4 linked regions of the Homo sapiens genome follow. The protein of the gene in region 4 interacts with the protein of the main gene of each other region in a pairwise test. Each region holds a gene or a part of one and is shown on either strand. Other genes may lie near its edges.

Region 1 (4,115 bases), on a different chromosome or scaffold from region 4:
AAAAAAACCTGCAACATTTCAAAAGATGTTATATTAGTCATTTCAGTGAAAGTTTAATTAGGGAACGGTGTCTACCAGAATATATTTGGCATCCTTCTTTTTTCTGGTATTTGCCTGAGTGAGAAAAGTGTTAGGAATAGGAAGGCCAGATGAGTTTGCTTTCCCTCCAGAGAATACTGGCCAAGAAATTTCCTGTCCAACCTCAGGAGCATCACTGAAGCCTGTTTATGAGGAATTGTCCTACCACAACACTGTGTTATGGCATTTGGGAAGCCCTCAGAGGAGCTGCCTGCTCTAAGATTGAGGCCACATGACTCAGGCCATTATAAACCCTAATGCAGAGCCCTGAAGAGGGAGAGCATTTGGAAGGGGATAGGGAAGCACATAAAGATGATATGCTCAGCTTTACTGTCGTTGGGCAGAAAACTCTCTAGTGGGCTTGAGAGGGGGAACTGATTTTAAGGAGGGCTGAATAGTTTGGGAACCTACTTAATGCAACCATAGTCTGTATTTTTAAAATCCTCACATTTCACTACAGATTTGGGTTTTAGTGTCTTGGCATAAATAGGGCCTTAATATAAATTCTTAGTTTTCTGGAGACATGGTAGAGGTCAGATATCAAGATTTCATAGGCAAACAAAACATGCTATATATGTAAAAAATGTATATACACACACAGCCTTTTGCTAAACTGAAAGAAAGTAAAAATTCAAAGCAGTCAAGGGGTTGAAAGATGGATTGGGTATGGACTTTTCTTCATCTATGTCAATTTTTGAAATCTCTCTCCCATCTCCACCATTCCCTTTGTTAATTGTCCTTGCTTACATTTAAAGGAAGGGAATTAGATCATCAAACAGGTCACTCACACCTACCTCTAACTTCACACACCTTGGTCAATGTGAAACAAGCTTGAACTGGTTATATGCTTCCCCACCATTTTTATTTATTGTAAGCTACTTTAAAAATTTTAGACAATGTTGTAATAAAAATATACACCTTTTTCCCCCATTATCCCTGGTCTTCTGGTGAAGCAAGCAGTGTAATCAATGATTCTTATGTGTGAGGAGCAACTCCAAGTAGAGGCGTTCATGTCCCTAATGCTTTTTTATTTTTCCTCATCAGCAAATTTAAACTACAACTTTATCCTGATCCCACTGCTGCTCTTTGCCTCTTCTCCCCCCAGCCCTTCCACATTTACCAGCCTCCTCCCTACCTCCTCCCAGCCTTTCCCTTTGCCCTCCCCTTTCTTCTAGCCCCTCCTCCCAGTTGAGTCAGTGGCTTGAAACTTTTAAAAGCTCTGTGCTCCAAGTTACAAAAAAGCTTTTACGAGGTATCAGCACTTTTCTTTCATTAGGGGGAAGGCGTGAGGAAAGTACCAAACAGCAGCGGAGTTTTAAACTTTAAATAGACAGGTCTGAGTGCCTGAACTTGCCTTTTCATTTTACTTCATCCTCCAAGGAGTTCAATCACTTGGCGTGACTTCACTACTTTTAAGCAAAAGAGTAAGTTTTTAAAAAATGAGAACACGTTACCTATTAGTTTCTTTTTCTACAAGTAAAACTTTTCTAAAGTTTTAAAATGTGTTAAATGTAATTTTGAATTATGATACTGTAAATGGATTGATGGATTTGAAAGTGTTTCTATAGTTTTAAAGTTAAAATTTATTGTACCAAATATATATTTTGACTGTTAAAAAAGTTTCTATTAACATTGCAACAGGTGAAAAGGTTCAAACCTTTCCGATTAGAATAAAGGATTAGTTTACTGGATGTTTGGTTTTTCATTTTAGAGTATCATTTTATTTTGTTTTTTTTTTGTAATCAGTAATAGTCTAGGTGCTATCATTTGTTGGGTGGGGGGGGGGCGGTTAGGCGCCTGGGTTGGGGGATTTGACTGACTACATCGGAAAAATCAAAGTGCAAATTTGCTTAGCGTGCTTCCTATAGTATTCTACACTTCATAGAATAAAGTGCTTTTTTCATATGGAAATCTTGATTGATGTTCTATAGCTTTGCAAAGCCAACTTCTTTTGTGACGAAGTGCTTTGTTAAAACATCGTGGTTACTTGACTTCCACGTGGTTCCTTCCTAGAATTTTCCCCATTAAACAAAAAGGTATAAAATTCAAGAGTATTAATATTATGCTTTAAAAATCAACAGTAAATTGTTACTTTGTGTTAGCAACCGCTATGGAAAGATTTGAGACCCTCAGGAGAGACAGCTTTTACTCGACCACGTTGGCAGTTTAGGAGATGAAATCTCTTGAATGGGTGGTGGCTAGTTACAGAGCATTAGAGATCAGACGTTTAAAAAAGAGTGTATGCCAGGGTACTTTTCCAAAACCGTCTCCTAAAACGGGAGCTCCTAGAAAGAGCAGGAAAAAAACTTTCTTAAACAGCGCTTTGGGAGCTCCCCCCGCCAACACCCGCCGCCCCGCACCTTCCCTCTGCTCGAACCTGTAACAGAATTCAGAACTCTGGGGCAGTTCTTTGGAGTTGGAGCTCCTAGGGCAAAGATAACGCTAATGCGTTGTTTAAAAGGGTTCAATTTTTAAAATACTTTTATTGGTAACACCCATTCTGTTCATCAGAAATGCAGCCATGCATTTTTGTGCCCGGTAAAGATTTTCTGTTCTGTGTAAATCTACAAACTAAAATAATTAGTTTAGATTCTTGACGTGACCCTGCAGTGGAAGTATTTGCACCAGTGAATGCTGAAAAGCAAATAAAAATGAAAGCTTTGCGGAGGCCGTGGGCCGGACGGGCGCGGGGCGCCTCCTGCCATCTTAGCGTCTGCCGGGATCCTTCCCGCGCCTTCGCTGCCCGAACCAGCTCGGTCTTGGGACGTTTCCCCCAAATCCTCACAAGTCAAATCGAACTCAGGTCCGAGTTCGTCACTGCAAAGGAACCCGGGGTGCGGGGTGGGAGGGATAGGAGGAGAGATGGGCTGGGTGCCAAATGGTAGAACAAATGGTTGATTTAATTAAAGTTGTCAATCTAATTTCCCATCCCTCTCACACCAGCCCTTTTTTTTTTTCTTTTTCTTTTTTCCTCTTAAACTTGCTGAATCCCACTATCTCCGCGTTGGTAAGAAAACCTGAATACCTTGGGAATTGTGCTTAAATTGCACTTGCAACTCCCCTGGAAGTTCCTGAAACTTCCCGAGAATGAGGCGGGGCGGCTCAAGGGGAAAGGGCAGGGAGGAGAGACCCTCGGGAAGCTGATGACGCGTCCGGGGCAAGTCAGCCTGTTTCCGAGACGCGCGCCTCACGGTCGTAGCAGCGCTGCGCCCACCCTGCCCCTTTAGTGACCCAGCCAGCCTTTGCTGGGGGTTTCTGATAACGCTCATCGATAAGCTCTCCTTGCTCCCAAAAGGCGTGCTTCTCTTTCTCTCCAGGTACAAAGTAGGGGTGGGAAGGGGAGAGCTACACAATGTTGTAAAAAGAAGCGTGGCTTTATTTGGAAGACGGTTGAATTTCTTTTGCTTCCTCGACCCAGTTAGTAACGACAAGAAAGATACTGAATATCGCCCTCCGAAAATCGGGCGCATTTGAACTCGGTGAAAAGTGTCCCTGTGAGGAAGCCTAATGTTTACTTTTGTGCAAGGATAACTGGAAATTAAAGCGTCTAGTAATGCAGAGATTTCATTAAGCGAGCGCTCCCCTCCCCCCCGCGCCAGGAATGAAATAAGCCAGTTAGACAGAAAACACTTTTGGGAGAAGACTAATTACTTCTGGGTAGGCCGAATTGACTGGAAATTATACCAAGCAAAGGCAGTACATTCCATTCCGTCCTGGCGATGTTGATTCTATATTATTAGAACATTGTTCCCCCAGTGTGGGGGTGCTTTGTACTTCCCAAAGTCAGGGTAGACTGGTTACCTGGGAAAATGCAGTGTTAGTGCTTTGCTCCTACTTTCTTCACTGTTTAAACATGTTCCACATTTTTCTAATGCCTTCTGAGGGTTCTCAACCCAGCCACTGAGTTCCTCACCCTTGGCGACTGTGATACCAACAATGCTGTCACCCTCCTTGGGAAACATGGTTGCAAAGATGCTCCGCAGGAGGCAGATAAAAGGCTGTGCTTTCAGATACTGAAGGTTGCTTTGTTACTTAGA
Region 2 (2,883 bases), on a different chromosome or scaffold from region 4:
TAAATGAGTTAACATATTTAAAGTATCTTGTACACATTGTTAATTAAATGTTAGTTATTATTCCATAGCTGCTAATTTTTTAGGAACTGTCTAAAAGTTTCAACTGTTTTTAAAATCAAATTTAAAAAATAGGTTATAATCTCAGTATAGAAAGGCATGATATGGCTGGGCACAGTGGCTCGTGCCTGTAATCCCAGCACTTTGGGAAGCCGATGTGGGTAGACCACATGAGGTCAGGAGTTCAAGACCAGCCTAGCCAACATGGTGAAACCCCACCTCTACCAAAAATACAAAAATTAGCTGGGTGTGGTGGTGCATGCCTGTAGTCCCAGCTACTTGGGAGGCTGAGGCAGGAGAACCACTTGAATCTGGGAGATGGTGGTTGCAGTGAGCCAAGATCGTGCCAATGCACTCTAGCCTGGCCAACAGAGCAAGACTCTGTCTCAAAAACAAAAAAAGAAAAGAAAAGAAAGTCATGATCCAAGAGAAAATAGAACAAATAGGATGGAGCAATCCTTTATTTTTACACACTTTGACAAGGAGGTTTGTCGTAAACAACCTTTCCAGTGGAGAACAGAGAACAGGAAAATCAGCCTCCAGACATCAGCAGCTGCTCTGTTCAGGGCCGAGGCTCCCCCTTGCCAATGTGGTGAGGTGGAGGGGTGTACTTTCCTTCCTTTATCAGCTTATCCCGCTGCTTCCTGATGGTACCTGCACGTCTCATCTGTCAAAGGAAAATGGTAATTAAACTGAGGGAGGAGATATGTGCCAAAAAGTGAGAACTGGAAAAACAGATCAATTTTGGTTTCATTTTTAAACTACAAAAGGCCTTTCATCTTACGGGGCCTCTGAAATGAAGTCCGCCTTTAAAGAATTAACATGAAATCACTTCCCAAGCTTTCAAACAAATTTTTAGTATACATAACCTCTCTGAAAACTAACAACTAAAATGTTCTTAATATATATAGCAATATGGATATTTGCAAAAACCTTTAAGAGGCATATTTGTGGATACTAAAATCTTTTAAAATATCAAAAGTTTAATCCCAGCACTTTGGGAGGCTGAGGCGGGTGGATCACTGAGGTCAAGAGTTTAAGACCAGACTGGCCAACAAGGTAAAACCTTGTTTCTACTAAAAATACAAAAATTAGCCAGGGATGGTGGTGCACATCTGTAATCCCAGCTACTCGGGAGGCTGAGGCAGGAGAATTGCTTGAACTTGGGAGGCGGAGGTTGCAGTGAGCCAAGATTGAACTGCTGCACTCCAACCTGGGTGACAGAGTGAGACTTTGTCTCAATAAATAAATAAATAAAAGTTGGGCCGTGGTGGCTCACGCCTGTAATCCCAGCACTTTGGGAGGCCGAGGCGGGCGAATCACAAGGTCAGGAGTTCAAGACCAGCCTGGCCAATATGGTGAAACTCTGTCTCTACTAAAAATACAAAAATTAGCCAGGCGTGGTGGCGCGCGCCTGTGGTCCCAGCTACTCAGGAGGCTGAGGCAGGAGAATCGCTTGAACCCGGGAGGCGGAGGTTGCAGTGAGTTGAGATCGCGCTACTGTACTCCAGCCTGGGTGACAAAGTGGCACGATCTCAGCTCACTGCAACCTCCGCCTCCTGGGTTCGCGCCATTCTCCTGCCTCAGCCTCCCGAGTCGCTGGGACTACAGGCGCCCGCCACCACACCCGGCTAATTTTTTGTATTTTTAGTAGAGATGGGGTTTCACCATGTTAGCCAGGATGGTCTCGATCTCCTGACCTCGTGATCCGCCAGCCTCGGCCTCCCAAAGTGCTGGGATTACAGGCGTGAGCCACCGCACCCGGCAAGCACTTACATATTCTATGTGGAAGTGGCACTGCTGCTGGTGACTATGCAATGGGTATGAATGAAGCAGAAATAGCCAATATGAGTTCTCTTTTCCCCATATGGAAGTAAAGGCCTGATTCTTACTCAGCCACTAGTCACCGCTGAGTCTTGAATTCTGTCTCTTCTACTCAGGGCATTGGTTGCTTCTCAACAAATCAAAACTATGTTACACAAGTGTGTCAAAGCCACAACAATGAACTGGTCCCTGGATTCTGTGACACAGAAAATTTACTAAATCTGATCACATTATTCCTCTGCTCAAAACCCTGCAATGGCTATCTTACTGAGACAAAAAGATGAATCCTTATCATGGTTTACAAGGCCTACTCCAGTGACTTCATCTCTTAATATTCCCCTAGCTCCCTCCAGTCAGCTCAGGGACCTTTGCACTTGCTGTTTCCTCTGCATGGAACATTCTTCCCTCATAACCACATAGCTCACTTTCTTTAAGTCTCTGGTCTGTCTTCTTTTGCTGAGATCTTCTCTGACTATTTAAAGTAGCATCCACCTAGCTCCTGCCCCTAGCACTTTCTATCCTTCTGTTTATTCTCCTCACAGCACTTATTATCACCTGTATTTTTACTTGTTATTTTTCTGCTCTTCCTCCCACTATAGCATAAGCTCACTGACTCTGAGATTTTTTTTTTTTGCTGTTTTGCTTACTGTATTCCTAGTGCCTAGACTAGTTTCTGACATAATTTTTTTAACCAATGACTAACTTTTCACAAAGATACGAAAAATTAGTATATTCAGTTAAACGTCTCATTAACCTTAAAGAAGTAGTGTTGATATAACTTCAGTAGAAAAAACCCTGAAATAAACATTAACCATTTTAAAAGACTACATTCTTACCATTTATCTTAGAGTCTCCCAACACAAGACTAGTCATGGTTTTGAACTATGACAATACCATATGTCAAATCTTTCTCTGAGCTAAAAGCAGTAACTCTGGATAAAAGCATAGGTATTGAAGCCAGCCTTGCCAGGATAAAATCCCAGCTCCACCATTTACTAGCTA
Region 3 (3,500 bases), on a different chromosome or scaffold from region 4:
AAAAATCTAAACTTTTAATTTTATTTCTATTGCTATATTATGTGATATTAGAAGAAAGTTATTGCCATCACATGTGCTTACCTGTCCCCCATTTGAGAGTCCAAGTTTTTGACCAACTTGTCTGTTAATTTCAGCCACATTTTCACCTTGATCACTAAAATGCCTGCCTTCCACCCAGCTCAAGAATGCAGGCTGGTGACTCCAGACCACTTCTATAGCTTGATTCTATTCATATAAGAAATGAGAGGAAAAAAGGTTTTCGTATACATTTTTCTGGATTCACATGAAAATAAACTATTATTACAATTCACATGTCCAAAAAGAGTTCTATAGATAGTTCTCTGTTATCTACATTTGTTGTAGCATTTAAAAATCTATAATCATTTCCAACACCCAATGCTGGTGGATGCTAATGAAGCCAATACCCTTATATTCTTATGGCAGCATTATAAATTTAATCAACCCCTTCAGAATTCAAAATGGCAGCAGTCAGTCAATAAACTTAAATAGCAGTTGAGCCACATATAACTATTTGAGCATTTATTCCCAATTAACGATTCAAAGAAAAAAGAAACTATAGCAAAAGCTATCTGTGCAGTATTTTCTATGATAGTGAACACTTGAGACTGTCTTAAATGTCTATCAATAGGGAAATTATTAAATAAGATATAAATTTACTATTTTAACATATACGTTAATAAGTAGAAACACATATCATCTTTAAAAATGTAGCAATATAATTTTAGAATTATGAAACACCAACCAGATGGAGTATACAATCCATATTTATTTACTTATTTATTGGAAGAATAATAAATGCATGTGGCAAAAGCACAAAACGTACAAAAGGGTAAAATGTGAAGCCATGTCTCTGTTCTCAGAGGTAATTACTGCTGTTTCTTCTGTACCCTTCCAGAAACGTTATATTATGCAGCCTCTTAATAATTGTAAGGGCTCATATAACTATGGGAATATAGGTTTTAAAAAAGCAAAATATAACATTTATTCTCATTAAAAAAGCAATTACATTAAAACATGTAAGTTTGTGGCCAAGGACCAAAAAAGGGTTTTCTATGATTAAACAATTACAAACTCATTATAGAGACCTCGGAAAACATATAAACTTGGAAGGAAACAAATGAACTACTGATATTCTCTCCACAAACAAGACAACCATGTGAACAATTTGGTCTATTTCTTGTTAATCCTTTTCTCTATGTGCAAGTTTTTCATATAGTTGTGTTCATATAGGCACAATTTAATATCCTTTTCCACTACTTATATTGCATCATAAGCATTTTCGAACTTTTTTTTTTTTTGAGACAGGATTTTGCTCTGTTGCCCAGGCTGGAGTGCACTGGCACAATCATAGGTCACTGTAACTTGAAACTCCTGGGCTCTAGCAATCCTCTCACCTCAGTCTCCTGAGTAGCTGGGAATATAGGCATACACCACCACACCTAGCCATTTTTTTTTTCTATAGAGATGGGATCTCACTATGTTGCTTAGGCTGGTCTTAAGCTCCTGGTCTCAAGTGATCCTCCCACCTCGGCCTCCCAAACTGTCGGGATTACAGGCATGAGCCACCATGCCCAGCCACATATATCATTTTTAAAATAAAAATAATTTTATTAATATGTATCAATAATAAATTTTAAAAATCAGCCAGGTGTGGTGGCATACGCCTGTGGTCCCATCTACTCAGGAAGCCGAGGTGGGAGGATCACTTGAGTCAGGGAGGTTGAGGCTACAGTGAGCCATGATAGTGCCATTACACTCCAGTCTGGGCAACAGAGTGAGAACCCGTCACACACACAAAAAGACTTATTATATCAGGAAGCTTCAGTGTTATTAATTTATTTATATCAAAATAAATTCATTAAGTTAAAAATATTAGGCCAGGTGCAGTGGCTCACATGTGTAATCTTTATACTTTGGGAGACTGAGACAGGAGGATTGTTTGAGCCCAGAAGTTCAAAGCCAGCCTGGGCAACATGGCAAGATCTACATCTCTACAGAACAGTTTTCATAATTTAAAATATTAAATATCAAATTCATTCATTTACATGCAATTTTTTTTTTCCTGAGACAGGATCTCACTGTGTTGCCCAGGCTCGAGTACAGTGGCAAAATCACGGCTCACTGCAGCCTTAACCTCCTGGGCTCAAGTGATCTTCCCACCTCAGTCTCTCAAAGTGCTGGGATTACAGGCATGAGCCAACATGCCCAGTCTTTATGTTTCTTGCTTTTTTTTTTTTTTTTCTTGAGACGGAGACTCACTCTGTCACCCAGGCTGGAGGGCAGTGGCACAATCTCGGCTCACTGCAACCTCCACCTCCCAGATTCAAGCAATTCTCCTGCCTCAGCCTCCCAAGTAGCTGGGATTACAGGCCCCCACCAAATGCCCGGCTAATTTTTGTATTTTTAGTAGAGATGGGGTTTTACCATGTTGGCCAGGCTGGTCTCGAACTCCTGACCTCAGGTGATCTGCCTGCCTCAGCCTCCCAAAGTGCTGGGATTACAGGCGTGAGCCACCATAGCCAGCTTATGTTTCTTTAAATGAGACAAATTTCAAACAATGTTGGAGCCACTTCTGGGACAATATAACGTACTGGAAATTAACCATGTTATTACAATTTTATATTTAAGAAAGCCATCATCATGTATCACTTAGTTGTGTAATTTTTCTCACAATTTTCACAGAACAGTCCAACTGTTCTGGCTGACAAATTCTTTCAACTGAGTGTATTTTGCCTAGATTTGGAATCAAAAGTCTTAAGTTACCATATCAGCTGTAACCGTGTGAGCTATTACAAGAATGAAGGTGATCAAGCCCCAGATGCTTTCTATGGGTTTTCATCAGAGTCAGCAATACATAATCCAGATAAATTCTACTTCATATGAAGAAACTTAAGAGATGGAAATATGAAAGATGCCCTGAAATATCAAAAAAGGAAACTCTACCAGCTCACTGAAAAAAGGAAAAATGAACCTTATTGAGGAGGAAAAATACTTCTAATTATTTATTTGGTCAAAAAGTAGTAACCAGCTCCATAAAGCCACAATATGTGCTCAGTTATATTGAGCAAACTCTGCAGACCAATGTTCTAAGTTAATTTTTATGTCAAAATACTTCACTTGAACCACAGAGCCCTGGCTATTCAGGTAAAGAGAAGAAAGAGACAGCTAGAAAGGAGCGTCTTTTCCAGGAGTCAAATCAAATCAATCAATTAATTGACCTTCTTTGACCCAAACTGAGGTATCAGTATTACCAGGAAATCTGCAGGTAAAACCATACATCAGAATGCCTTAGGAATAATCAGGTCCAAAGCCTAGGGTATCTCTTGCTAACACAAGGGAAATGAAAATTGTGTGGCCATATCCGAATGGTGATTTAGGTTCGTTTGCATTCACTGTGTATATGAATCCTCTCCCCCTGCTGCAATCACATCAAGTTCTGAGTACAGAGAAGATAACTTAGTTGAAGCGGTGGTTCTCAA
Region 4 (5,235 bases):
TTTCCCAGAACACCCACAGTGTGTACTGAGGACACAGCTACAGACCTGCTTTTCCACAGCTCACCACCTACTGGGGAAAGCAGACAATTAACTGATAACATCACTAAAGTGTGACCTGTGTCATCTGGAGGGGACACAGAGCAAACTCAGGTAGACAGCTGGGAGGTGGCTGCAGGGGTCCAGGTGCATGGGGCGGTGCCTGAGCATGAGGAGGCGGCAGTGGGGATCAGGAGGGAACGGGCTGAGCGTCCTCAGGAGGCAGGTGTCAAGAGGCACACTGACTGACTGGCCTAGGCAGGCTGAGAGGCAGGCGGATTAAGGATGTTTCCCAGGTTTCTGCTTGGGCAGCCAGGAAGAAGACAGCTGCTCCCCTCTCTGAGACAGAGGGGACACTGAGCTACACAGTGGTCTGTGGTTGGGGCAAATGCCCTGGATGGGTCAGGACAGGCCAGGTGACTCTGAGCTAACAACCACCCACAACTGATGTTTGCTGTGCCCAGTGCAGGTGGGCAGGGGGTTCTGTGCATCACAGTCACTTGCGGTCCAAGCCCATGGGGCCACCTCTTAATTCCAGCTTCCTTGCCTACTATGACAGGGAAAGAAACATGGCAACATGCGCACAGCTCTTAAGGCTTGTGCTGGAGGCGGAACACATCGCCCCTGCAGCCTGGCACTGGCCATGGGACATGGGAGGTAGGGGGAGGCGTGTTCCAGCCTATGTTGGCCGGTGGGCAGGTGCTCAGACTCAGCAAGCTCCTTGGGGTCATTCATCACCCCTCCACCCATTCATCCTCAAACACCTGCAGAGGGCTTCCTCTGCCAGGCTGTCAGGCGCCAAGGGCACAGAAATGAGAACTGACAGTCCACTGGGGGAGACGGTCTTCGCATGGTCTTGCCCTCAGTGTAAGGCACAAGAGTGGTGCAAGGGGGCCTAACCAGGCCCCCAGGGTAAATACGGGTTGCGGGGCTGTCTGGGGGAATGGGGAAGAAGAGCATTCTGGGCTGGGGGCTCCACAGGCTCAACACAGCTGGAGTGAGCCACAACAGTGAATCACGAGAAATGAGGCTGGAAAGGCCAGTGGGAACCATGGTCCTGGAGGTGGGCATTGGGTGGGGAGCTGTGCTTCAAGCTGAGGGCAGGATTTTCAGCACAGATGACTGTGTTCTGAAAGATCCCTGTGGGAAGAGTGAGGAGAGGGGTGAGCAGCAGCCAAGACTGGAGGCAGGAGGACCAAGCAGCGGGTTGTGGCCACGTTTCAGGTCTGGAGTCACCCAGGAGAGATTCTGATCATATGGGTCTATGGTGTGACGTGGGAGGTGGAAGTTTCCAGGACAACTCCCAGGCTCCTCAAAATAACAATTTTTTTTTTTTTTTGAGACAGAGTCTCGCTGTGTCACCCAGACTGGAGTGTAGTGGCGCGATCTTAGCTCACTGCAAGCTCCGCCTCCCAGGTTCACGCCATTCTCCTGCCTCAGCCTCTGGAGTAGCTGGGACTACAGGTGCCCGCCACCACGCCCAGATAATTTTTTTTTTTTTGTATTTTTTAGTAGAGATGGGGTTTCACCGTGTTAGCCAGGATGGTCTCAATCTCCTGACCTTGTGATCCACCCGCCTCAGCCTCCCAAAGTGCTGGGATTACAGGCGAGAGCCACCGCGCCTGGCCCAAAATAAGAATTTTTTTTTTTTTTTTGAGATGGAGTCTTGCTCTGTTGCCCAGGCTGGAGTGCAGTGGTGCGATCTCGGCTCACTGCAAGCTCCACCTCCCAGGTTCACGCCATTCTCCTGCCTCAGCCTCCCGAGTTGCTGGGACTACAGGCGCCCACCACCATGCCTGGCTAATTTTTTGTATTTTTAGTAGAGATGTGGTTTCACCATGTTAGCCAGGATGGTCTCGATCTCCTGACCCGTGATCTGCCCGCCTCGGCCTCCCAAAGTGCTGGGATTACAGGCGTGAGCCACCACACCTGGCCCAAAATAAGAATTTTTAATAGAATACCACGTATTAATTTCTCTGCTTCATGCAGACAAATGAAGAGAAAAAGTATTTCCAAGATTATAAGAACAAGTTTGGGCATTGTTTGTTTGAGACAGGGACTCCCTCTGTTGCCCGGGCTGGAGTACAGTGGTGTGATCACAGCTGACTGCAGCCTCAATCTTTTGGGTTCAAGTGATCCTCCTGCCTTAGCCTCCGAGTAATTGGAACTATAGGCATTAGCCATCGCACCTAGCTAATTTTTTTATTTTTTAAATTTTTTGTAGAGATGGGGGTCCCACTATGTTGTCCAGGCTGGTCTGGAACTCCTGGGGCCACTGCACAGCTATACTGTCTGACAAGCACACATGGCAATAACCAAACCAGACTGCCTGATGCAGACTGAGGGCAGTGCTTTCGAGGTCACACTCCTAGACCCTGGGCTGGAGCAAAGAGAAAAGGAGACAGTGGTTAAGGGACCTCACAAACAACCTACCACTTGACCCCACGATGCACACAAGGAAGGGGTGCAGGTGTCTGCACTCCCATGCAGACGTGCTCTCATTCAAACAATCAGAATTGGCTTTCTGGGAGGAAACATGCTGAGGGGGCAGCTGGGTTTTAAGCTTTTTGTTGTATCCTGGCTCTCACACAGCTGCCTCCACTCTGTCATCTGGTGTCTGAGTGCCTCACGCCTGCCTGAGGCAGTGCCCAGCTGATGGCAGTCCCCCAGCTCTAATGACCCTGTCCCATGGGTGTGACCACAGGGACTGTTGCTGTGCCAGGTCAGGTTGGCTGCAGGCACTTACATGCGCTTCCCACTCAATCCTTCAGCTACAGTGAAAGAGAGTGCCCGTAAGAACGGCCGCAGGTCTCCTGGGCTAGAAACACCCCCAGAAAGCAGCTTACCTCACCAGAAGCGTTTCACATTTGGAAATTAAGATAAGGAACACAGAACTGATTGTTTCCTTCCTTCCTTCCTTCCCTCCCTCCTTCCTCTTTTTTTTTTTTTTTTTTTTTGATACAAGGCCTGGCTCTATCACCCAGGCTGGAGTGCAGTGGCACGATCTCAGATCACTGTAACCTCTGCCTCCTGGGCTCAGGTCATCCTCCCACCTTAGCCTCCAGAGTAGCTGGGACTACAGGTGTGCACCACCATGCCTGGCTAATTTTTGTATTTTTTGTAGAGACACGGTTTTGCCATGTTGCCCAGGCTGGTCTGGAACTCCTGAGCTCAAGCGATACGTCTTCCTCAGCCTCCCAAAGTGCTGGATTATAGGGGTGAGCCACCAAGCAGAATAGTTTCTTTTTTCCTTTTCTTTTTTTTGAAACAGAATCTCATTCTATTGCCCAGGCTGGAGTGTAATGGTGCGATCTCGGCCACTGCAACATCCCCGTCCCAGGTTCAAGCAATTCTTGTGCCTCAGCCGCCTGAGTGGTTGGGATTACAGGCGCCCACCACCACACCCAGCTAATTTTTTTTTTTTTTTTTTTTTTTTGAGATGGAGTCTCGCTCTGTCTCCAGGCTGGAGTGCAGCGGTGTGATCTCGGCACACTGCAACTCCCACCTCCCAGGTTCAAGCGATACTCCTGCCTCAGCCTCCGGAGTAGCTGGGACTACAGGCACATGCCACCACGCCAAGCTAGTTTTTGTATTTTTAGTAGAGATGGGGCTTCACCATGTTGGCCAGGCTGGTCTCGATCTCTTGACCTCGTGATCCACCCGCCTCGGCCTCCCAAAGTACTGGGATTACAGGCGTGAGCCACTGTGACTGGCCTAATTTTTGTATTTTTAGAAGGGATGGGGTTTCACCATGTTAGCCAGGCTGCTCTTGAACTCTCGACCTCAGGTGATCCGCCTACCTCGGCCTCCCAAAGTGTTGGGATTACAGGTGTGAGTCACCGTGCCTTGCCCAGAACAAGTTTTAAGAACTTGTTTTCTTAAAACAAGCTTTTACTTCAATAGGAAAGTATTAAAGACAAAATAAAAGAAAAAAAAATTTATAAAATAAAACAAGCTTTATGGAGGCAGAACACACAAAGCTCTTTGTTGAAATATGCTCTGAATAATAAAAAGTAAATATTTAATAAAAGTTGCTGGTGCCTGTAATTCCAGCTTCTTGGGAGGCTGAGGAGGGAGGTTTGCTCAAGGCCCGGAGTTTGAGACCAGCCTGGGCAACACAGTTAGACCCCGGCGGGGGCAGGGGAGTGAGTTTCTGGGTGGCCTCTCACCCCAGGGTGCACCTTACAATGACCACGAGGTGCCAGGAACCAGGGTTGGTTTGGCATCCACACAGGGTCAAAAAAATTTAATGGATCTTTGTTCTCTGAAAGGGAACAGGAAGGTAAACACAGGCTGCCACTATTTTTGTTCAGTAACTGGAAAGGCTGCTCTCATTTGATCTCCAAATATTTTTTTAAAAAAACAAACAGTGCTTCAGAGTAAAACTTCTATTGATTTAAATTACAAAGGCATCCATTGCAGGGAGTCAGGGGACTGAACAATGCAGGTCTCTGGACCGGCTGCTGGCTGTGCCAGGGCCCCTACAAGGCGACCCAGCACTGACCTGTGGGGCTGCTGGAGGTCTCCAAAGGTGGCCGGAGTGCCTCTCTGCCAGGGGTGGTCACAAAAGGAAGTTGCCCTGACAACAGGCCAGGACACTGAAAGTTTGGAGATGGAACAAGCCAATGAGCCTCACCTGCCCCCACCAAGACTCACTGCCAGGAAATGCCCAGTCAGCAAGTAACTGACTGCCCAAGGGAAACGAGGCCCCTCTGCTCAAGTCTGGGGTGAGGCACAGGGTGTGCTCCTGACCAAAGAGTGGCTCAGGGGAGCCGTGGCCCTGGCTGCGCACCCCCAGGCACCCTCACACTCTCACTGGCAGCGGATGTGCCGGGGCTTGTCCACTCTGGCCCTGGCCTCTGGCTCCTTGGGCTGCCTGGCTCTCTGCCAGCTGCTCTGCCAACACAACCCTTGTCTCACTTGCTGCCACCTGGCTAGGACTCTCCCTCCACTGCAGCACAGCAACTTGGCAGTGCCCACTGCACCCCGAGGGCCACAGTGTGTCTCTATAACATCCCCAAACCACAACCCAGAATGTCCGACACTCAGACCTCTCTCGAGCTGTTTCTCTTTGGACTCTGAAAACAGCTGTTCTCTGTGGCTGTAAGGCCAAGTGATAGCCTAGGTTGGTCACTTAGAGCCACAGCCAGCTCCTCTAGGCCTAGGGATGCTGAGGGTGCCAGGCTTGGAATGCCTGGC

The links. The genes of interacting proteins can lie anywhere in the genome.
Region 1: the proteins of ARFGAP3 (region 4) and GJA1 interact in binary tests that used the Homo sapiens proteins (3 or more experiments, as listed by UniProt).
Region 2: the proteins of ARFGAP3 (region 4) and NDUFS5 interact in binary tests that used the Homo sapiens proteins (3 or more experiments, as listed by UniProt).
Region 3: the proteins of ARFGAP3 (region 4) and PEX1 interact in binary tests that used the Homo sapiens proteins (3 or more experiments, as listed by UniProt).

The regions. Positions count from the first base shown.
Region 1 is NC_000006.12:121,434,331-121,438,445, forward strand, and holds the start of GJA1 (gap junction alpha-1 protein), read left to right. Parts: upstream 1-1,315; 5' UTR 1,316-1,502; intron 1,503-4,115. UniProt on the Homo sapiens protein: Gap junction protein that acts as a regulator of bladder capacity. A gap junction consists of a cluster of closely packed pairs of transmembrane channels, the connexons, through which materials of low MW diffuse from one cell to a neighboring cell.
Region 2 is NC_000001.11:39,032,233-39,035,115, reverse strand, and holds the end of NDUFS5 (NADH dehydrogenase [ubiquinone] iron-sulfur protein 5), read right to left. Parts: intron 725-2,883; coding exon 620-724; 3' UTR 501-619; downstream 1-500. UniProt on the Homo sapiens protein: Accessory subunit of the mitochondrial membrane respiratory chain NADH dehydrogenase (Complex I), that is believed not to be involved in catalysis. Complex I functions in the transfer of electrons from NADH to the respiratory chain.
Region 3 is NC_000007.14:92,522,021-92,525,520, forward strand, and holds part of PEX1 (peroxisomal ATPase PEX1), read right to left. Parts: intron 226-3,500; coding exon 82-225; intron 1-81. UniProt on the Homo sapiens protein: Component of the PEX1-PEX6 AAA ATPase complex, a protein dislocase complex that mediates the ATP-dependent extraction of the PEX5 receptor from peroxisomal membranes, an essential step for PEX5 recycling.
Region 4 is NC_000022.11:42,800,929-42,806,163, forward strand, and holds part of ARFGAP3 (ADP-ribosylation factor GTPase-activating protein 3), read right to left. Parts: intron 1-5,235.